Regions from separate parts of the Homo sapiens genome. Here region 1 is linked to region 2. The links come from fine-mapping of genetic effects on gene expression. A gene starts in region 2. The other region holds a variant in brackets. All regions are shown on one strand. Distances are from middle to middle.

Region 1 (12,164 bases), 62 kb before region 2:
ATGTAAATTATCCTGGAAGTGGATCTTCCAACCCCAACTGAGTTGCCTTAGCTGATGAGCAAAGATGAGCTACCCCCACCAAGCTCTACTTATTTTGCATATTCATAAATGAAATTAATGACAATTGTTGTTTTAAGCCACTACGTTTTGGGTAGTTTGTTATGCAGCACTATATAACTAGAACACCATCCACTCGTGTATGAGTGGGCCAGGGTTATCTGACAGGCCAAGCCCAGGAAAGGCCTGTGTTTGTTCCTCACCTTCCCATTACCTCTGTCTACTCCTTCTAGCCCCTGGTATCCCCTAACCCCACTAACAGGGAGAAATGGACCCTAAACTAGAGAGTGGGTCTCAGAGAGCTTTTATGCACATGTTACCTGAGGTCTCTCAAGCTGCCACTGAGAGTCTGCCCAGATTACATCCCTGAACCACCCCGCAAAGGGGAAGGAGCAGATGAGGCAGCTGTCCAGGCCCCTGAGTATGCCTAGTATAGGTAGGTGACCAGGATGAAAGAGAGGGCAATGCTCTACAAGGGTGGGCGGGGGTATCTGGGGGCACTGATTCTGTCTGGGTCAGAGCCTATGTGAGGGGCTTGTGTGCTTTCCCAAGATCTCACACAGAAATGTGCCTTAAGTATTTATCAGAGACTGGGGTTAAGCTCTCTGTCTTGAAAACACTGGAATCCATTTTTCTTTCTGCATCCATCAGTGACCCTATTTCCCCTGAAGCAGGAGGGAGGATGAGAAGTACTAGTAAGAGTCAGCAGAGAAGAATAAGCTGTGTAGGCTTCTAAACCCCGCTGGCAGGTTTGGCCAGATCTAGTGTGCTAATGTGCACAGCTCCTGGTGGGTCCGCCAGGTGAGGGGCTGAGATGCTTTTGGAACTCTGAGGGTGTGGCTGGGCAGCTAACAAAGAAGCTAATGAACTCCTTGACCATCCTTACACATTGTGGGCTCTAGGGACCAAAGGAATGGCCTTTAAGCAGTCTGGTCTGGGGACAATTTGGAGAAAGCTCTTCCCTGGCTGAAAGGGCATCCTAGAATTTAAAATCGGAGAGTCACTCCGTTCAATCAAACTATCAACTCCAGGATCCTTTCAAAATGTAAATCTTGAAAGAAAAGAAAAATTTTAAAGTTTCCTGATACACAGGATACTAAGGAGTAGAGGTAAGTTGGTTTTGGTCATTAACACTTTAGCATGAGTTTATTTTTTTTTTTCTAGTGAGGGAAAGGGAAGAGCAACAGTGAGAAACAAATATATTTAAGGATGGAGAAAATTACTGGAAGGAGGATAGAAAAGGGAAAGTGGTATCTTAGAAAAAGTATCTTAGAAAAATATTTACCATCAGTCTAAATTTGCTTGCATCTAGCTTTGAGGCAGGAAATACTTTATATTTTTGTCCAAAATCTCTGTGCAGGGACTTCCATTTCTGGAGCAAGGGGCCTTAAATACCCTGAACAACTTTCCAAATGAAAACAATGATCTATCAGACAAAATATTTTAAAAATTTTAATACACGACTGAATTGACAAGAAAGTATAGGGTCACAGAGACTGAAACTGCGTGGAGAGTGTAAACACAGGATGATGGAGCACAGTGCCGGTTTTGTTCCAGGATCTACCATCCCCTGGTGACTTTAAGCCTGCATGTTGATGCTGAGCTGGAATGGGAGAAAATAGGTAAATAATGGGGCCCTGGGGCCTGCCCAAGTGGATTGTCTAATAAAAGACCCCTGCATAATGCTGGGGCCTCAATAGCTACACTTTCAATGTAAAAGTAACTAAGAAATAAATCTGCTGCATAGAAGAGAGCAAGGACAATTTGGTCCCATGTAGAAAAAAGTTAATTCTCCTGAGAATACTTAACCAAAAGTCGATTCTCACATGGATACATGATCCAAATTCATACGTTGTCAGAAATTCTTAAGCAGAAAATTTAATTCAACAGAGTCCCAAGTTGGTGCTTCCCAACAAGTGACTGGCAGAAACAAAAACAAATTATCTTTGCAAAATGGCACGTTCAGCTGAGGCCTCAAAGATTTCCCACAGATGTAAAGTTCCAATGAGGATTTCAGTTCCAGTCAAGAATCATAAAATCACACCAGAAGATAAGGGACCATGAGTGAGAACCAACAGAAACAATAGACTGTAGAATCAGATCTACAAAAACTTCAGATATTAAAATAAACAGACATGAAAAATAACTGTGTGTTCTAAGAAATGAATGTTTAAAAGTATGAACACAGTACAGGACACTTTTTAAAAATGCAGATTTGTAAAAAACCTGGAACTACTAGGAAAATGTATATAACAATTAAAAAATTCAGCAAATGAATTTACAACAGATTAGACACAGCTGAAGAGAAAATTAATAAACTGATAATTCTTAAGAAATTATCCAGTATGCAGGTCAGAGAGATAAAGATAAGAACAAGAAGAAAGTAAGGTTATGACATGAAGCATAGTGTGTGGAGGTCCTTGGAATTCCAGAAGGAGATGTTTATAGAGGGAATGGGGAAGAGGCAGTATTCAAATAAATAATGGCTAACATTTTCCCAGAATTGTTAAAAGACACCAAAACTTGGATGTTAGAAGCATAACAAATCATAAACAAGAAAAGTAGGAATTCAGAACCACATACATTTTGGTGAAACTGCATCAAAGACACATTATTTTTAAGTACATATAAATTTCATTACTCCTTGTATTATATACTTATATTAAAGTATTCTTTTGTAAGTATGGCATATTTCACAATATATTTTTGTTAAAGGCTATGAGTTCCTGAAGAAATGTGGCTAAAGTGAGGTGGCTGGAAGTTATCTCTGAATTCAGCTTTGGAGCTCTGGGAAGCAGTAGGGTGTTTGGGAAGAACTTAAATTTGAAATTAGGAAGACCTAATTTTAAAGCCCGTTCTATTGCTTCTCAGCTATGTGACATTTAGCAAGTTATTTTACCTCTCTTAATATATTTCCTAATTGATAAAATGAGAATCATGTTCACTTTTTGGAGTGGCTGGGATATGGCATAAATTTTAAAGACTTCTTGGGCAGGGGAAACCCTAGCGATGCCTAGCCAAAGTCTCTTTTCTCGAAGGGGAGTGTGAGCCCTGCCATCCCTGCCCCATAGGAGGGCCCACATTCCCCGTTTTTCTTCTCTACCAGGCTAAATTGGACCTTCCCTGGAACTGATAAAGATTATGGCCATGTACATAGCACCTTCTGCGGGCTGGGCACAGTGCTGACCATTGTATGTGTATTTCCTCTCTTTTCCTTGCAAGAGCCTTGCAAGGAAAGAGCTTTAACGGGAGATGCTGAAGGCCAGAGAGGTTAAGCCACTTCCCCCAAATCATACATCTACACATTGTACAAATCACTGATGTCTCTGAGCTTCACATTTACCATCTGATTACAGGGCTCAGAAGACCTTACACACCTCCAGAGTGAATGTAAGATCATGTGAGCTGGTGTGAAAATTCCAGCTCCTGACTAAATGAACCTTCGCTCTGTGTTGTCTACTTTTGAGTTTCTCATTCCCATGTTTCACAGCTCCAGCTGGCTTAGGTAAGAATCCAGCCCCTTCTTTCCTCCTATTCTAGGCCAGGCCATGACTTGGGAGATGCTGGGCTCCCAGAGATGGCTCAGCTGTGTGCCCACCATAGGTAGCAGCCTGGGTGGGGTACACTTCCCACTGCCCCCTTCCTGCCTGGCTCTGCCTTTTGCCACCCTGTAGGCCAATGACCACTGGTCCTAAGGCTCCAGGAAGCTGCCTCTGACCAATGTGAAAATCTGCCCCCAGAAAGCTCCTGCTGTGGCAGCCTGGGAGAAGGCACTCCTGGACTTACACCTGCACCAGGGCTGGCCCTGATGTCAGAAGCCCCAGGCTTCTGTTTCTGCGTGGCACCTTGGTCTCTTGAGCCCTGTCCTTACATGGACACCCAAAATGCCCTTTGAGGGCTTCTCTTGTGGCCTTCTCCCTTGTTTGCAGCTGTTTTCTAGGCTGGATTGGAAAGATGTATTTCTGGATGGACATGAAATGGGCTACTTTAAGACAGTGGGTTTGTCTTTGCAAGAGATAGAAGGGGTATGGCTGGGCGCAGTGGCTCATGCCTGTAATCCCAGCACTTTGGGAGGCTGAGACGGGCAGATCATGAGGTCAGGAGATTGAGACCATCCTGGCTAACACGGTGAAACCCCATCTCTACTAAAAATACAAAAAAATTAGCTGGGTGTGGTGGTGGGCACCTGTAGTCCCAGCTACTCGGGAGGCTAAGGCAGAAGAATGGCGTGAACCTAGAAGGCGGAGCTTGCAGTGAGCCGAGATCGCGCCACTGCTCTCCAGCCTGGGCGACAGAGTGAGACTCCGTTTTGGAAAAAAAAAAAAAAAAAGAGATAGAAGGGATTTGGGGAGGTGAAAGGGAGTTGGGAGCTGATGAGGATTGGGCAGTTGGAAGAAGGCATGGGAGATGAAGGGAATGTGGGGTGGCAAGGAGCCACCTCTCCATAGCGGCTCCAGTGGTGAACCATGGTGGCAGTGTGGGGGTATCTGACTTCTCCCGGGAGCCTGAGATCTTCCATTTCCTGAAACTGGGGGCTACCTCTCATCACAATGGTGCCTCCCCTGCCATGGGGTGGCCCTGCTGATGAAGAGTGCCCAGGGGCTTGACTGGGGTGAGCGTGAGAAGCCATATGCTCCTGGGAATGAGTCCACCCAACTTGGCTCTGTCAGTGGGACAAAGATGACAATAATAGTGACAGCCCTCCTCTGAGCAGTTACTCCAAGCAGAGTGCTATGCTGAGGGCCCCACAGTCCTGGGAGGGATGTGTGGTTGTTATTCCCACCTAGAGTTGAGGACACTGAAGTTAAAGAGGGAAATAAAAATGATCCAAGGTCAACATAAGGAACTGAGTCAGAATTTGAGCTAAAGCCCACACTTTTCATCATACCTCAATCCTACCTTCTAGGTAAGGGGGCTCAAGGACAGCTCGTCATCCAAGACTGCTTTAACTTTAAGAAAAATCAGAAAGACATTCTTTAACATTCAGGAGCAAAGAGTGATCTGTGTTGACTGTATAAAGCTTAGAGAATACCAGAGAGTAGGAAAGTCAAAGAAACAACCCTGCCCCGCCACAGGGGAGCACAGCATGGCATAGTGCAGGCTGGGCTGGGGGCTGAGCCCTGGCCAGGCTGCAGGAGAGGACTGTAGCTACTCTCAGGACTTCCCAATGGGGACCCAGATCTACCAGTGTGAGCTGGTAGTGTAAGAAAACACATCAGACGGTCCAGGCACTCAGACATAGTGTTGGAGCTTGGGCCCGTTGCTTGTGCTGCAGAGGAAGGCCATTGGTTTGAGTAAACTTGTGGTCAGGTAACACTTCCTGGAGAGAGGTGTGGTGGGGGGGGTGGTTGTCAGGCTAGTAAGGAAGAAAGGGAAGAAATGTCTGGCAGCGACATCAAGAACCTCTGAAACAGTGTAGGGGAGTGTCTGTGAATTTACTGGGCCCCACTGGGTGAGGATATAACTGAGAGAAGGGCAGGCAGATCTGGAGACATCTTCCAACAGAACAAGAGGGACACCAAGTGACTGCATGGACTTGGTGAGCAGAGAAGTGGAAATGTGCAGATGTGGTAGCAGGGAGTCACAGTGTGGCCAGGGGCCAATGGTCAAAGGCCAGGCAAGGGACATCTGGGCTGACTGGAGGGAGAGGCAGTTGCCTCTGCCTCTAATGCCTGGAACTTCCATCTCATAGGGGACAAAAAAAAGGAAGAGAAAGGGAAGGAGTGTTAGATTGACCTAGGTCAATCCCTCTAATGCCTGGAACTTCCATCTCATAGGGGACAAAAAAAGGAAGAGAAAGGGAAGGAGTGTTAGATTGACCTAAGTTGACCAAGAATTGATTGAGAAAGAAAGAAAGAGGCTGGATCTCCTGCAAAGCGGCCCAAGGGCTTCCAGCCATGAATGGACCCAGATTCAAGTGCAAAGCTATGCTGGGAAATAAAGAAAGGCACAGCTTTGTCTACTGAGGTCTTGTGTGAAAATCCACACCATCCCCTGCAGCGTGTTTAGTTCTGCTTCTCCAAGGTAGGTCTCCTCCCGTTTTAAGCTGGAGAGCTAAAGCACAGCAGAGTGAAGTGGCTCACCCAAGCCCACAACAAATGGCTGGCATTTGAGCTCACATCTGTCTGACTCCAAAATCCATATCCCCTTGGTCTCATTGTCTGAAGCTTACTGCCTGGGGATCCTGGGACAACATTTCAGCTGCATTCCCAGCAAACAGATCCATGAGCCCAGAGAAGCACCCCAGCCATGCCTGAGACTTGGTTCCCAGCCACTCAGCACCACCTCCTATGGACAGAGCTGGAAAACTGGGCCACAGGAAGCAAGACTGCATGGCTCTCTCCTCTCCTTCCAGTATGGCATTGAGCACTGATTAAAAAGATAATCTGGAGGCTGCTCTAGGGCCAGGCGCCATGCACAAAACACCAGAATGATTTGTCATCTGAAAAGCTAAAAACATCTTGATGGGTGGAGAAATCTTGATGAGTCGATCATGGAAGATTATGCAAATCCCTCTGCCTTTGGTGCAGACTTTTCCAGCCAAAAGATACCACCTCCAGATGTGGTACCCTCTAAAAATAGCAGGTGGAGTCATCTCCCCTGGCTAATTGTTCTAAGTGGTCCCTCAGTGCCATCTGGAAGTGGATCTCCTCAGTGTACCAGGACATCGCCCCAATTATCTATGCAACGGCTCCTCAATGCTGGCCTTACAACAGAGG[C/G]GGCAGCTGTCTCCGCTTATTACACCTCCCCGCCCCCTGCCATGGCCGGCACTGACTCTGCCTCTGACGCTGAGGATACGCACTGCACACGCCCTGCCAGATGCCAAAGGAAGCCATTCTTCTGGAAGAAGACTTTCTCCTGAAAGCCTCCTGGAGGCAAAGTTCTGGCAGAACGAGGCAATTTCCCTCCCTGCAGGCGGAAGGAAGGCAATTAGAGCGGGTAAGGATGGGGGATGCTTTCTCTTTTCTTCACTGCTGGCGAAATATGGGCCAGGTCACGCCACTGGCAGATGCTGCTGGCTGTGAGTGTGCAGCATCGACTCCAGATGGGTTTCTTGCCAGCATCTCTGGCAACCAGGGCAGGAGAGGTGCATGTGCCTGTTCTTCCCAGGGGCTGTGGGTGCCACAGGGCAATGCCTATAGCAGGCAGGTCTGGGACAGCTCTCAGATGTGTGCCTGGACCCAGGTAGTCTGAGATCTTCGCCAGGGCCTCTGACCACCTTGGCCTCTGAAGCAATTAACTGGTTTCCCTGCTCTGTTCACTGGTCAGTTCTGAGTAGCATGAGATGGCAGAATTCTCAGAGGTCACCTGGCTCATGAGAAAGTGCCAGGAGGGCATGTGAGTGCTTGGAAAGGTCCTCCCCAGAGGGAGAAGAACCAGGTCAAAGACTTTGTGCAGCATGGAGGAGAAGAAGGAAGGGAAGAGAGGAAGTACTGCCTGATGTGTGGCCGGTTAGCCTTGTGCCTGCCCAGCCCTGCCTTGAGGAGATGATGGAGGGAGGGGCAGAATGTCTTCCAGGGAAGCAGGGGATGCAGACTGCTAAGAAGATGCACAAGTCTGTCAGTGTACCAAGTTGTTGTTCCAATCGTGTCTGTAGGGATCTTTAATCAGAAATAACTTCATTGCAATTTCAGGAGCTAGGGCTGAGAGAGGGGAAATGATGCAGACACTGCCACCCAGCAAGTGAGAGGAAGGACTGAACATGGACAGAAGGGCTTGAGACATTGAGCCTTGGCTGCTTTCACCCATCCCTTCAATTGCTGCCCTCTTTTCTAATGGCCTGAGTCTCCAAATGGAGCCAAGCTGGGGGCACCCTGGCCAGGAGATGTGGCCTGCTGTGCCCCTGAGAAGAGCTGTCCCAGGCACACAGAGACAACATTTGGAAGTGGAAAATGCCTCTGGAGCAGTCAGAGTGTTGGGAAGTCTCATCCCATTCTCCGTTTCAGGAACCTTCCCTCAGCAACAGCAGAGCAGAAGGGAACTCAGTTCAGCATAACTCGGCAAGTATTCCCGAGCAGCATGCTTGGGCTGGGCAGGGGAGACTGTCACAGCCAGAGTGGGCAGTGCTGTGACAGGAGGCTCCCTGTGCAGTTCCACTTTGTCTCTGTGACTTCGCACAGGTTGTTCCCTTGCCTGGAATGTCCTCCCCCAACCTTTTCTTCCTGGAAAACTTCTATTCAGCAAAACTCAGGTTAAATTTCACCTCCTCCAAGAAGGCTTTTTCAACTCTCTATGCTGTGCTCTCAGAGCCCCCTCCTCAACACACACACACACACACACACACACACACACACACACACACACACACACACACACACACACAGCTTTCCTCTACCAGGACACTATCTGCTTCTTGACTAGACTGCAAACTCTTTGAAGTGAGTGATCATTTAACCAGCATGATGTTTGTCACATAGTAGATACTTCGTCAATGTTTAGGAGCCAAGGAGAGAAACCACAGTGAACAGCCACACTGTACTTTCCTCACTGTGATCAGCACAGTCTTGAACTGTGGCGTAAGGGCTTCCCTGTGATCCAAGGAGGTGCTTCCTGCTGGTGAAGGAGGAGTTGGGCCCGGGGCTGCAGCCACCTGGGCGAGAAACCACTGGGAACCTGCTCTGTGCCAGGCCCTGCCTGGGCTTTGGGGGTGGGAGTAAGACACAGTCCCTGTCCTGAGGACCTGCAGTCTGGTGGAGTGGACAGGAGCTGGGTTGACATAGGATCTGCCAGGCAGAGGGTGCTGATTGTCATAGACAGCTTGGATGTCAGGGGAGCCTGAGGTGGAGAGTGGTGGTGGCTATTGAGACCATTCTCCAGAGAGGACGGGGTGCAGGTAGAGTTTCAACAGGTTGATGGAAGGGGATTCCAAGTGGAGGGGGGACCAAGGACAATGACAGAGAGACGGGAGCCTGCAGAGCAGTTGAGTATCAGTGAAGTATGGGAGCTCAGCTATGGCATCTTGGAGCTAGAGGGAGAGAAAGATGAGGGGTGAGCCTGGAGCCTACAGCTGCCAGTGCTGGAGGGCCCCTTGCATCAAAGCCCTTTCCTGTGGAGGATAACGGGGGCCTTGAGACCAGGATGCCTGCCAGGAGACTGGGCCAGATTGGAGGGCTTTGAGTGTACTGATACAGATTGCTTAAGCCTGACCCAGTGGGCAGCAGACATCTTCACACAGGGGGTACAGGCTGGACCAGCATGAAGGCAGGATCTGTGGGGCATCTGCACTACCACGTGAAGTTTAGCAGGCCTCTGCACCCTGCCTGTCTCTGCACCTCTCCTGCCATTATGCCTTGATTCAGGCCTTGCTCCTTTGAGTAAAGACACTGCCTCCTCTTAGGATGCCCACACTCCCAGAAAGGGTAGCACGTTAGGCCTCAGATACCCCAGCATGGGCCAGTGGAAATGGACTGGAGAGACTCAAGCCAGCACGAGGGTACTTGGAGCCTGGGGAATGGGGGGTGGGGCCAGGCAGGAGGACACCAATGCCAGCATCACCCTAAGGGAAGCCTGGGGTGATCTCACAGCCTTGCCTGAGATGTGGGACAGTCTGACAGGCAGCTGGGCCAGCGGCTCCTCCCTCAGCCTACAGATGGATAGGAACTGGCCATAGCTCAGCACTAGCTTCTGTGAGTAATCAGACTGCATGACTTTTATTCTTGGATAGCCTCTGCTGCCGAAAAGGAATATGGTATGAACTTTATATACTGATGTGGAATATTCCCATGAAATATTAAATAAAAAAAGTGAGTTGGCCAGGCGCGGTGGCTCACGCCTGTAATCCCAGCACTTTGGGAGGCCGAGGCGGGCAGGTCATGAGGTCAGGAGTTCGAGACCAGCCTGGCCAACATGGTGAAACCCCGTCTCTAGTAAAAATACAAAAAATTAGCTGGGTGTAGTGGCGGGCGCCTGTAATCCCAGCTACTTGGGAGGCTGAGGCAGGAGAATCGCTTAACCTGGGAGGTGGAGGTTGCAGTGAGCTGAGATTGCACCACTGTACTCCAGCCCTGGCAACAGAGTGAGACTCCGTCTCAAAAAAAAAAAAAAAAAAAAAAAAAAAAAGCGAGTCACAGCACAATATATGTAATATTGAACATTTCTTTAAAAATGAAAATCTGTCCAGTTGCTTTGACTCATGTCTGTAATCCCAGCACTTTGGGAGGCCGAGGTGGAAGGATTGCTTGAAGCCAGGAGTTCAAGACCAGTCTGGGCAACAAAGTGAGACCCCCCGTCTCTACAAAAATTAATAATAAAAGAAAGTTAGATGGGTGCAGTGGCATGTGCCTATAGTCTCAGCTACTCATGAGGCTGAGGTAGGAGGATTGCTTGAGCCCAGGAGTCCAGAAGGTCAAGGCTGCAGTGAGCTATGATCTTGCCACTACACTCCAGCCCTGGCAACAGAGTGAGACCCTGCCTCTAAAACAAAACAAAACAAAAATCTAGTCTAGAAGTGCTTGTAGGTGTTTGTGAGTACATAGAAAAGCTCTGGATGGAGACTTGGCCGTTTTACTATAGTGGTTACCTCTGGGGAGGTGACTGGCATTGTCGAGGGGACATGCATATCTTATTATGTATGCTTCTGCACTATGAAGTTTACATTAATTTAAAGTAATGTTGGTTAACACCCTGAGGACTAAAACATGCTCATCACACCCTCCTCGGGACCTCTGCTCTCACTGATATCTCAGCACATCTAGCTGACAGTGCCTGTCCACATGAGCTGGGCCCCAAGTCCAGCTTCCTCACTTACCCGTTGGGGCACACCTGGGCAGGGCCCCTCCCTGAACTCTGCTTTCCCTGCCTGAAAATGGGAGCAATGGTGATAACAACCTCTCCTCACCAGCTCATCTTGGACGTAGAGGTCATGTACAGGCTTTGTGGATGACCAAAGATCCAAGTGCTTCTGTGTGGCTGCCAAGGACAGTGCAGGCACAAGAGTCCTTCCCACAATGAGGACTCAGGCAGAGCAGGTGGCCCCTCAGGAGGAATCACAGCTGCTGCCCACAGGGGCTGCTCTGTTGCTTCTCCACCATGGCAGAGGCTAATGGGGGCCCTGAGGCTTTGGGCTCAACCCGACTAATCCCTGTGTGGCTGCTTTCTAACTGTGACATGCTGGGCCCCACCCATCCTCTCTCCTCTTTGTAAAAAGGAGAAATGAATACCTACCTTGAAAGAGGACTCTAAGGGTTATACAAGATACTACGTGTGCACATGCGGAGCACACAGTGGCACGGATACATGGTGTGCACACCTCCCTCCCCGCTGATACCTGGGGGAGAGCCCATTCCACATAGTGTCTCCAGCAGCCCAGAGTCCAAGGCGGCCTCCCCAGCATGCCCACCAGCCATCCACCATGGGTTTTGGGGGCTCACCCTAGCATATTGTTCTCTCACACTACCCTCTGTCCCACTGCTCTGGTGTAGAATGGAACTCACAGACCTTCACCCCACTCCTGTGCTCCCGAGGGGCACACCTGTGGCATAAATGGGAGGAGTGCCCGGGGTACAGGTGTGGCCATGGCAGTGCCGGGAACTGTGGATCTCACTCAGGAAGACATATGCAGACATCACCTGAAGTTCCCAGCAGGACAGGGAGTGGCACAGGCAGCTCCATGCAGTGTAGACGGCAGCACCTGTACTAGACACCTGGGTCACACCTGACTCTTGCTCTACTCCACCCAACTGTGTTGCCTCCAGAAGGTGCTTGTCAGTAAAGTCAAGTGTCTGTCCCAGCTCTGACCACACGTTGCTATTGAGAGGAAATGCAAGGGATCAGGACAGAACAGATGCAATCCAAACTCATGCAGTGGGTGGAGATGGGGTAGGGTGGGGCCAGACCCCTTTCTCAGGTTGCCTAACCAAAGGGTGCCTAGGTGGGGCCTGGTTGCAGGAGGGCTCCTCATCTTCCTGTCTGTAGAGACAAGCTTCAGTTGCCTTTCCTTCTTGGCGGTCTGGACAGCTGAACCCCACTCCCCCTGCTGCCCTCCCCTTCCCCCTTCCCTCCGCCCATTCCCCCTCACAGCCCATTTTCTGGCCGAATTGTTCCTTGGTTTATCTTTGACCTCCACTGCAAACCAGGCTCACTCTGACAGGGCTTTGAAGTCAAGTGCC
Region 2 (12,077 bases):
TAAAACTTAAAGTATAATTAAAAAAAAAAAAAAAAAAAGAAAATACAAAGGTAAGCCACCAAATGGGAGAAAAATGTTTGAAAACATATTTTAATATTGGACTTGTATCCAGAATATACATATATATATTCTGATATTTAAGAATTCATGAAATTAAAAAATAAAAAACCAAACAACTAGATTTCTAAAGTAGGCAAAAGATTTGAATAGATGAATCGACAAATGAATGGAAAATTAGCACATGAAAAGATGCTCAACATCAATAGTCATTAGACCAATGAAATTGAAAACCACAGTGAGATACCATAACACATTTATTAGAAGGCTAACATTAAGAGGAATGACTATTTTAAGTGTTGACGAAGATGCTGAGGAAACAATACTCTCATATAATATGTTGATGGAGATGTAAAATGGTACAATTACTTTAGAAAAATGTGGGAGTTTCTTAAAAAGTTAAACACAGTCAACCATTCATTCCCAGATATTTACCCAGGAGAAATGAAAACATATGTGCAAAGACGTGTACACAAGTGTTCATAGGAGCTTTATTTGTTATAACCAAAGACTGGGAAAAACCCAAAAGTCCCTCAACAGATGAAAGGATAACAAGTTGTGGTCCATAAACCACGATAGATACTACTCAGCAGTAGAAAGGAAAGGAACAAACTATTGATACACATGACACCATGAGTGAATCTTAAAATAATTATATTAGGTGCAAAAAGCCAGACAAAAGAGAATATAAACTTGTGGTGCCTTTTATATGAAATTCTAGAAAATGCAAACTATCCAAAGTGAAAGAAAGCAGTGGCTTCCAGGGGAGAGAGTTATTTGGGAACAGCAGGAGGAAGGGATTACCTACCAAGGAGTATGAGGAAGTTTTCAGAGTGATGGATATTTTCATTATCTTGACTGTGGTTATGGTTATATGGCAGACACATACGTCAAAACTTATCAAATTATATGCTTTCAGTGTGTGAAGTTTGTTGTATGCCAATTATACCTGAATAAACCTATTTATTTATTTATATAAAAATATAAACCTATTTATTTTAAAAAACAAAACTCCACTGGGAAATTGTTGAGGTTCGGGATATCTGTATTCTCTTTCCGTATTTTCCACAGGGTTTGTCTCAGGTCTGAGTGTGCAGAAGGTGGTCAACAAATGTTTGATTACTTTCATCCCTACAAGAATTACCAGCATAGAAGGAAACTCACTGAGCAAGGATGTTTACTGGTACAATTCAGCTGATGGGGAAATTGTGATTTGCTAAAGTAGCAAAAGTCACAAGGGGTGAGGGGACTTCGTTTGATCACTCATTTCTATGGACTGCTAGGTCAAGTCAGTTCATTTCAGCCTGGAACGTTTGCATCCCTGGACAGTTTCTAAGGGAGGAGAATGAATGCCACTGAACATTCATAAGGAATAAGATGAGATGGAACAAGAATGATGATGATGAGGATGAGGATGAGAATGATGAAGATGATGATAGTAATAGTGATAATACTATTTACCACTTGATGGCCACTGACTGTGTGCCAGAGCACCATCTGCTTCCTGTCTGTTCACCCTCACCCCAGTCCTATGTGGAAGTTGTTATCATTCCATCTTAAAGAGGAGGAACTAGCAGGTGGTGAGTAAAATGGGCTCATATAGCTAATAAGTTGCGGAGCTAGTATTTGAACCCATGTCTGTCTGATTCCAAAGCCTGTGCTCCTACCATTAAATGTATCCCATTCCCAAGCCAATAAACACATGTGAACACATGTATTTCCACCTGAACACCCATGTAAGGCCACACACACACACACACGCATATACTCAACCACATGTATACAAATGTACCTGCACACACATGGGTACACATACGCACATGCACATATTTGAATACACACATTTGCATGCATACAAAAATGGCCACACACATACACAAATGCATCCACATGTATCCCCTGAACACACACACCTATGCACATACACGCTTGCATGACACATACAGCTGAGCACACACATATGTGGTTGCACATACACAGAGGCACACACTTAGTCCTAAGAACACACATTTTCCCTTTCTGGCTCTGGCTTCCTGCAAACAGCCACCACTACATCCTTTTGCCAGCCTCTCCCAGCCAGGCCCCAAGAATCTTCAAAACACTGAAGTCCTAAGTCTCAAGTGAAATTATGCCCAGGCCCCTGACCTGGGGGAGCTGCATGCAAGTCAGGGCAATCAGATACATCACATTTTCCCATGAAAGAAATTTCTGACAGGCTTATTAACCTTTGAAAATACCAGTTCTCAGTCTGAGGGACTTCCTGAGTCCAGATCAAATTGAAAAATAACCTAGTGACAGACCACCCAGTTCTGAGCTGATGGGAATTACTTTCAACCCAGGCCAGCATGTCCTTTAGACAAAATGTTCCACACCAAACCTGACAGCAGCCAGATCTTGGGAGCAGGGGAGCCAAGTGCCATTTATTACAAAACATATCCATGATCGCTGTGTCATGGGGCCACTGCTCTGGGCCCAAGTCCCTTTGGGGGCAGCTGGGGTGGCAAGTAGCAGCCAGCCTTAGTGCCTTTGACATTTATGTCCCTGTGCTATAGGACAGAGGGTCTGTCTGTCATCACAGACTGATGTAGCCTTGGCCCCTGGCAATCATTTTCTGTTTCAAGTGTTCAGTTTGGTGTAGAATTGTAGTTCAGTGGATGCTATCAGAAGAAAAAGGACAGAGTGTCACGTGGAAAATTGGAGATAAACTGATAACTCCAGGGTTAGAGGAACTGACTCATCCGCCCCCACTGGCTTGTGGTGGAGGACAGTCTCCCTCCTTCTCTCTTTTGGGCCATATTCTGGCTCAGAAGTCAGTCTATGTAATTTCTGGAAGTGTCAATGTTTTTCTTCACCCCATAGAACACATGTAGAACAGAGCTTTTCCACCATAAGAGCTGCCAGGTACCTCAGAGTTCAGCCTTGTCACTGCATGGAATAAATTGGGTGGTCATGCGCAAGACCCATAACTTCAGAGCCTCAGTTTATGCATATAAAAGATGGGAATATCAGTGCCTGCCCTGTCTGCCTCACTAATTTGCCATGAAGACTAACAGGGCTGATGAGAAGACAGTGCACTCTGAGTGAGAGGGAAGGGGCTTGGGCCATCACATCTTCAACCATTCCTACCATTGTTCAAGGTTTTTTTGCTCAGGCAAACCCTCACACAGGCTTCCAGGAATGTCTTCTGATGTTTCCCCTCTTTCTCTGGAATTATCTCCTCTTCTGCACTGCTACTGACTGTCCCACTGCTCAGCAGGTTGCATCCCAGCCATGTGCCCAGCCCCAGCAGATACTTCAAACTGCTCATTCCTATAGCTCCCAACACAACCGTACCTCTTCTCGACCAATGATTTTGCTTTCCAGTGCTCAGAAAAAGGGACAGAGAGGCAGGAAGGCTCTCTGATTCTCTCCCCAAAACGTATCCACTCTAACCATCCTTAACTCCTGGCCTACTGGTGCAAAGGCTCCTTTGCATCTACTACCAATGCCTCCACTTAGAATCTTCATCCCCTGAAGCTTCCTCAGGGATCCACAACATCACTTGTCCCTTCTCGTTACTGGATCTTTGGTTTTTTCCTTGCTACCAGTCCCTTCTCAGCACACAAAGGGGAATTTCGGCCATGGAATTTGTGTCTCTGTAGGAACATGTAAGAGGTTTGGACTTTGAATAGGGGCCAGAAGAATAAAAACTCTGGGTGAAGTCAAAAGTGGGGTGGATGTGGACCTTTTGGGAGGCCTCAAGGATAGGGAATTGAAGACTTACAGAAGTCACATGAGTGTGGTTGCTGGAGACCGCAGGGGTTCTTGCGTTGTCCAGACTGTCACCTTTCTTCCTTGGGCTCTGTTCTTCCTCTCTCCATTCCTCTCCCTGACTTTTATCCCCTAACCCCATCTTGACTTCTAAAAGCTTAGGATAAAATATATCTTTTAAAAAACAGAAGTCCAGACCCTGTTAAATCACTGAGAGTGGGATAAGGCACTCCCCACTGAGGCATCACTATACTTTTGTTTTACAAATAATAGAAAACCATGCTTGCTCCACAGAGCTGGTGAAGATATGACCTAATGAATCCTAACAGTAGCTGCAGCCAGATAGCCTTGGGACTGTCAGTCAGAGGGCCAACCCTCCCCAACCCCCAGTGGTGAACAGAACCCCACCCAGGCCAATCAGCCTCTCTCACCAGGAACTTAGATTGGATGGAAGGCAGGGAGTTGGAACCAAGCCATTAGGACTGCAACCTCCTGGAGAGATCTCTTGAGTTCCTGCCTCTGGGGTTCTTGGAGCTGCCATCTTTCAAGTCCTTCCTGAGGCTTGGCTGTTGAGCTTTTTCTTGAATTCTGTGAGATATTCAGTATCCTTCCAATTACTCCCATTTCAGTTTTACTCAGGAAAGATTTGTTTCTTGCAACCAGAGTACTTCTGAATACCATCCTCAGAAAGTAACTGACTTGGGTGCCATGGCTCATGCCTGCAATTCCAGCACTTTGGTAGGCTGAGGCGGGCAGATCACTTGAGCCCAGGAGTTCAAGACCAGCCTGGACAACACAAAAATTAGCTGGGCATGGTGGTGTGCACCTGTAGTCCTAGCTACTTGGGAGGCTAAGGTGGGAGGATTGCTTGAGCCCAGGAGGCAGAGGTTGCAGTGAGCTGAGATCATGCTACTGCACTCCAGCCATGGTGACAAAGTAAGAAAGACCCTGTCTCAAAAGAAAAAAAAAAACGGAAAAGAAAAAAAGAAAGTAATTGACTTGCCACCACACAACCTTCTCACACCATCTTTATGAAACACCAGACATCAGATCCTGAAAGTACTTTATTCTCAAAGTTTGCAAGATAAGTATTGTCATTATGCCCATTTTGCAGGTGAGGTACTGGGGCTCTGAAAGATGTGGGCATCTGCCTGAGGTTATAGCTTAAACCAGGAATCTTCATTACTCCATATCAGTAAAACTCACTGTACCCCAAGTAAAAGAGGTCATTGAAAGGAAAGTGGGAAGCTCTCTGGCCAAGACACCACCTTTCTCCATCTCTCTCCGTACATATTCTCCCATCTCTGCTTCTGAGGATCTGCTCCATTTTCCTGCCTCTCTCTGCAGAGTGGCTTTTCCCTGCTCACTCATCAGTGAGCACATTGCTGAAAAAGGCTGCTTCAGCCCAAACCCTAAATACTTAGTTATTCACTTCAAGCTTCCACCGTCGACTATTCTATGTCTCATAGTTTGAATTATTGAGAAAAAATCTGCTTGGTGCCTGGTCATCTGGGGTAGGCTGAAGAATGCCCCCATACTTCCTCCCAAGTATAACTGCACTCTAATCCATGGAACTTGTGGATGTTACCTTATATGGAAACATGGTCTTTGCAGATGTGATTAAGTTAAAGATTTTAAAATGGGGATTATCTTGGATTATCAGGGTGGGTCAGTGATTATGCAATCACATACATCCTTATAAGAAGAAAACAGAGGAAGATTTGGCACAAATAGAAGAAGAGAAGCTGATGTGAAGATGGAGGCAGAGATTGAAATGATGCAGCCACAGGCAAAGGAATGTTTACAGTCATCAGAAACTGGAAGAGACAAGGGGCAGATTCTTCTCCAGAGATAGACTCTAAGGGGAGCAGAGCTCCCTTGATTTCAGCTCAGTAATACTGATTTCAGATTTCTCATGCGGAATTGTGAAAGAATACATTTTTGTTATTTTAAACCATAATATTTGTGGTAGTTTGTTATAGCAGCCACAGGAAACTAATGCTAATACAGCAGCCAATGGATTCATTCATCCTGCACTAAGTGTCCAATCAGCTGTGTCCAGGAGGATGTTTACAGGAAAAACATAGCCACTGAGGCCTGCTCCCTCAGCTATGGGAAGAAAGTAGAGGGTTCATTTTCAGAGAAAAGGCATGGGCTGGGAGACACCTGCATTCATCCTGCCACTAGTCTCTGACACCTGCTATCATGTAGGTGTAAGCATTGGGAAGTGCAGGGCAGCAGACTTGCCTAAATAGGCACCAAGCCTAGTGCTCTCCCTTCCCCTCCCAAATAGGGAATGAGTTCATAAACAGCACTGTTAATATTAATGCTAAGTTGGGGGAAAATAGCTGAGGCTGGAAGGTGAGTCTATTCATCCAGCTAAGTCAAACAAGAGTTTACTAACACCCTGTTTTCCCAGGCCTTGGGATAAGTGCTTAGCACAGGCACCAATCTATAGTCTAGAGAAGGATAAGACCTGCACATCCTGGATAGCTGGAAAAAATGTAAAGAATCATTTAATCATTCATTCATTTATTCAACAAAAGTTTGCTGTGCACGTAGATGTACTAGGCTAGGTGATATTGCAATAAAATATGTAGAGTCACTGTGTTCATGGGGTGAGAAAAAGAAATAAGCAGATAAAGAGCAAAATAACAGATTATAAAATGGGCTATAAAGGAAAGGAATAAGTGTTGAGACAGAGAATCAGGTGTATGAATTGGCAGTGGCAGTGGTGGTGGTGGTAATCAGGGCTTGGAGTCAGGAGTTAGATTTAGGGTGCATGTGAGCAGTGTGGATGGAGAAATTTAAGAAGTAGTTGGATTTAAACCTGAGGATGGGGGAGAAGGTTTGGGCAGGAAGTGGAATACATAAATTATGTATTTATTTGAGACAAGAGTCTCACTCTGTCACCCAGGCTAGAGTGTTTGTTTGTTTGTTTATTTGAGATGGAGTCTTGCTTTGTTGCTCAGGCTGGAGTGCAATGGCACGATCTTGGCTCAATGCAACCTTTGCCTCCTCGGTTCAAGCGATTCTCCTGGTACAGGCGCCCGCCACCATGCTTGGCTAATTTTTATATTTTTAGTAGAGACGGGGGTTTCACCATGTTGGCCAGGCTAATCTCGAACTCCTGACCTCAGGTGATCCGCCCGCCTTGGCCTCCCAGACTGCTGGGATTACAGGCGTGAGCCACGGCGCCTGGCCGGAAATTTGTTATTTAGAACGATGGAAACGGGTAGGAAAAAGAGCATATAGGGAAAAAGGTGTAAGTTTTAACTTTATGCATAGGGAAGGACATAAACACCGTCTACTTGTGAATAAGTAGTTTAGAAGAAACAATCTATAAGGGCCCGGAAGACTTCCGGCCCTTTCCGCCTTTAACTAGACTACATTTCCCAGAGTGCTGCAAGAACTGGGTGTGACTCGGAATCCCTCCCAACCACTTCCGGCGCAAGTGGCTTCTGATAATCATGGCGCCCCTCGGAACAACTGTATTGCTGTGGAGCCTCTTGAGGAGTTCTCCGGGCGTGGAACGGGTCTGTTTCCGGGCTCGAATCCAGCCCTGGCACGGTGGCCTGCTCCAACCGCTACCTTGCTCTTTCGAGATGGGGCTGCCACGCCGCCGGTTCAGCTCCGAGGCCGGTAAGTGACCTTCCGGACTTTCGCTGGGGCGTTCTTCTGGGAGACGTAGATCCTGTTTCTGGCAGGCGAAAACCACGCGATAGCCCCCGCGACACGTATCCTAGCGCTTCCTCAGATTCAGCTGTCTTCCTTCTGTACCTGTAGAGTTTGTCATCACCTGCATATCTGTTCATTCGTTCACTCACTCAACTACAGTGCCTGAGTTCCGCTCCGTGCAGAGCACTGTGCTAAGCTCTGTGGGATATGGCAAACTAAGACTGACACAGACATTTCCCTGTGGGAACTCATGTCCATGGGGAATTGGCAGTGCAGTGTGACCCGGGTTGTTATAGGGGACGCACACAGGAGAGGCACTCAAACTAGGTTGGAAGGTCAGGGAAGGGTTCCTGGCAAATATGACCAAAGCTGAGATCTGGTTAGCCATGCTAAGGAGAAAGCAAGAAGCTTCTCAAGCATAGGGGACAGTAGCAGATGTCCAGAAATGAGACTGAGCACAGATATTTGGGAACCCATTTTGGAGGTAGGATTGATAAGGCTTGATTAAGGCTTTGGATATGAGTTTAAAGGGACAAATTAAGATTGTTTCTTAAGTTTTTGATTGGAATAGAGGGTTGTCCCATTTACACCAAGATGAAGAAGATTAATTAATTGTTGGAACCGTTATTTTGGGGGCGGGGGTAGTGCAGGAGTAGATGAGATCAGGAGATGGGAAAGGAGGCGGAATTAAACCTATTTGGGACACATTAAATTTGAGGTGACTTTAAGAGTCAACTGTTTAGTATGGAGTTAAATATAAAGTGAGGAACATCGGAGTAAAAATGGTAACTAAAGGTGAGTGAATGGGTGAGACTGAGGAGAGAGTAGTGCTGAGCACTTGCTGTGTGCTGGATACCCTGAGGAACCCTGGGTGCCAGAGATGAGTATAAGACAAGGTCTGGTCTTCATAGAGCACATCACTTAGTGAGAGACATAGTGTAGGTAAGCAGACCACCTTAACTTTTTTTCTAAATGAGGTTGGAAGCCATTCGTGAATTTTAAGCTTGGGAGTAATCTTGATTACATTTTAAAGAGATTACTCTGGTTGCTCTGTGGAGAATGATCTGTAGTGGGGCCAGAATGGAGAAAGGGAGGCTGATGCAAGAGATGAGGATAGCCTTGACTAGAGTAGTGGCAGTGGGAAATGGAGGATTAAAATGAGATTTATGAAGGCAAACAATCAGTATGTTCTCTGCCAGTGGTGTTTTTTTTTTTGTTTTTTTTTTTTTTTTGTAAAATTGGGATAATCTTCGTGTTTACCTCATGGGTTGTTGTGAGTATTAAATGGGCTGAATGTGTAAAGTACTTAGCTCAGTCAGTATTGGCATGTAGTAAATAGCTAATAAATGGTAGCTCTTATAATTACTGTTATTATTACTACAGCTATTTGATTACTGTTGTTGTTATTACTACTGCTATTGGCTAGATCTGGAGGATCAGGGAGAATTTAGGAATGGCTGTAAGATTTCTGGCCTGTATGGCCTACTGGATGATGCTGAGATAGGGAACAGAAAATGCAGGTTTGAGACAAGGGAAAGTTGATGGGTTCTGACTTGGCAGTATTCAAGTACATGAGAGAGGTTGAGTAATTGGATGGAAGGTGATCTTGGCAGGAGATTCAGATTTTAGAGTTTCTGGCATATAAAGGTAATTGAAGTCGTGGCAGGATAGGAGAAATCATCGAGTAAGAATCTGAGAAGGGAGAAAAGGACATCGTTCAGAATCTGTAGGGATACCAACATTTATAGGAGAAGAAGAGGTGACTAGGAACAAATGGCTTTTTCTTTCTTTTTTGCTAATGGAAATGGAAGTAGAAGTTAGGCAAAGCAATAAGCAAACTGCATGAGGCTGAGCTAAGATTTGATTCTCTGCTTATGTCAAAGGCTCTTCCATGATAACACACGGCCTCTTCAGTATCATGTCCAGTGAACCAAGCCTCTTTCCTAGCTGCAATCTCTTAGCCTAGACTTTCCCTCCCTTTTTTCTCTGCCGTGATGAGGCTCTTGGGACGCTTTCTTTGACCCTGTCATGCCCATCCCTAGTCCAGGCTATGCTTAGTTTCTTCCTCTGCAATCACCCAAGCCCCGTACCTCTCCTGTATACCATACCTCTCACATTATGTCTCCCCACACCTCCCACTTATACCGAGGAGCGCTATGATAAATTGGAAACCATCTAGGATCCAGAACCAGACAAACCTTGGTTTAAATTTTGACTCTATCACTTAATAGCTAGTTGTCTTTGGATAGGCTTCAGCATCCTCATTTATAAAATTGGGTTTATCAGTACCTATTTTGTGAGTGGTTATAAGCATTCCTGAAAATGTGTGTTATACCTGCCATATAGGAGACAGCTCTGTAAGTGGCAGCAACCATTACAGTTATTACATTAATTACTTTATTACTGTTACTTCCTCTAGTAGTCTGTCCTTTTGGCAGAGACCGAGTCTATCTCCTCATCATAATGAGTGCTCAGTAAATCTTAAATGAAGAAATAAATGAATGCATCTCATAGGTATTAGCATTTTGCAGTGCCAAGGTAGACATTGTGCTAATGCTTTTTATTGTTAACTGACTTTTCTATTTAGAGGTCTTGTTAGCTTGTCATTTTTGTCAGCTTCTTATTTACTAAAGTCCATTTTAGCAGAATCTGGTAGCCCAGAGACCAAGAAACCTACATTTATGGATGAGGAAGTTCAAAGCATACTCACGAAAATGACAGGCTTGAACTTGCAGAAGACTTTTAAGCCAGCTATACAAGAACTGAAGCCACCAACCTATAAGCTAATGACTCAGGCACAGTTGGAAGAGGTACGTGAATGCAGGAATATTGTTAGAATACCTTTCTTTAAGGGTTTAAACAACATTTCTAGAGGCCCCTCCAGATGCTTATAGCTATTCTTCCATAGGCACTAGTGAAAGGTAATACCAGGCATAGAACTGAGAAAAGAAATGTGAGTAGGCTGCCAGAGAGGGGCAGGGAGCATGGCTGGAATTGAGCAGACTAGGGCATATGGATCAGGTCTGGGTGTTCAGAGAGTATCCTCTCTCCTCTCAAGGCAGCCTGAGCACCCCTCCTTTTTTCTGCCTGCTCCAGCTTCCTTCCTGGAGAAACATCTACTGTGATCTGCCTTGGGGCTGAAGCTTTGGGGAGATTGTGAGATCCTGCATGGAAACAGCATGTTTTCCAGGCACCAGTGTCCTCAGTACCATGGGTACTGAGTGCTGCGTGGAAAACACTTTGATGTATGAATACGTAAAGCATTAATACTCGTCTTTCTGATTCAAAAGTAATTTATAGTCAGCAAAATATATATATCTCTCTCCAGTAGTAGATTACATGAAGAGTAAAAGTCCATCTTTTCACCTCCTAGAGGTAACTGCTTTTAACAGTATGGCATGAAGCAATGTAGTCAATGGTTAAGAGAATGGGCTTTGAAGTTGGGTTGTCTAGGTTCAAATACCAGTGTTGCAATTTTCTAGCAATTTACTTAACATCTGTATGCCTCTGTTTTTTCTTCTGTAAAATGGAGATGATAACAATTGCACCTAACTCATAAGGTAATTGAGGCCATTAAATCAGCCAAATACATTTAGACTGTTTGAACACTATCTGGCACATAGTAAGCACCCCAAAACTGCATTCTTTTATTCTGTTTCAAGCAGCTTTTGTAGCCTGGCTTTGTCTCAGAGCATGCCTTTGTGGTTTTGATAACGGTTGAGTCTATAGCTGGTGGTCTCAGCCACATCGCAGAGGCAAAGGCCAGGGCTCACAAGTCCAGGTTTGGCTTTTTACTCACTGATTTGTGGCTACACCTTCTTTTCTATGCAGGTTTTTGCATTTTTTATTAGTATGTGCTTTTGTCAGATGATCCTTATATTATGTAACCTTGTGGCTTTCCTTAATAAATATTTTCTTTCATTAGGCTACAAGACAGGCAGTTGAGGCAGCTAAAGTACGATTAAAAATGCCACCAGTTCTGGAAGAGCGAGTACCAATAAATGATGTGTTAGCTGAAGATAAGATTTTGGAAGGAACAGAAACAACCAAATATGTGTTTACTGATATATCATATAGCATACCACACCGGGTGAGTATATGTCTAATCGCAAAATGATCTTTCTTTGAAATACTATGTGGAGAAGGGCTTGAGAGATGATGTGACCTGGCTGTCTCTGATGCGTCCAAACCAGATTTCCTCTGACTGGGTGAGACCCTTCTGGAAGATATACTATATGAGGGATGAGAAATGCAGACCAGCCCCACATCATGGTGTTACCATTTCTCAGCAGATAATAGGCACAGTATTTTCCAGATTCCAGATGTGCTGAGGCAGAACAAGGAGTACACAGATACAGACAGAAACCCATCCCAAACCACAAATGGACAAAAATCTACAAGGCAATGGAAGCAGGAGACTCTTTTCGCCTAAGTTAGATGGATTTCTTTAGCTGAAGCTTTTTGAGAAGATAGAATGTTTCTGTCTTATAAATTCCTTGATGATGCCAAGAAACTCAGGCATCATAAAGGATTTTCGCTTTCCAGAATTTTCAGTAAGAATGACAGATGTTTCTCAGATAATTTTCAGGCAT

What was found.
Region 1: its variant is fine-mapped to the expression of MRPS22 in fibroblasts (GTEx, PIP above 0.99). The same link has a PIP of 0.9 or more in hippocampus, spinal cord and substantia nigra.

The regions. Positions count from the first base shown.
Region 1 is chr3:139,274,840-139,287,003 of GRCh38, forward strand. It overlaps LOC124906290 (a long non-coding RNA gene), which reads left to right and starts at 6,764. Exons shown (of 2, transcript XR_007096115.1): 1 at 6,764-6,996; 2 at 7,692-12,164. RefSeq lists a silencer at 8,525-8,716. The variant C/G (reference allele first, on the strand shown) is at 6,777.
Region 2 is chr3:139,336,750-139,348,826 of GRCh38, forward strand. It overlaps MRPS22 (mitochondrial ribosomal protein S22), which reads left to right and starts at 7,271. Exons shown (of 8, transcript NM_020191.4): 1 at 7,271-7,449; 2 at 10,129-10,295; 3 at 11,411-11,575. The coding sequence starts at 7,278. It overlaps LOC124909439, which reads right to left and starts at 4,124. Exons shown (of 2, transcript XM_047449421.1): 1 at 3,821-4,124. The coding sequence starts at 3,949. RefSeq lists enhancers at 7,329-7,418, 7,378-7,672, 7,649-7,748, 7,759-7,878.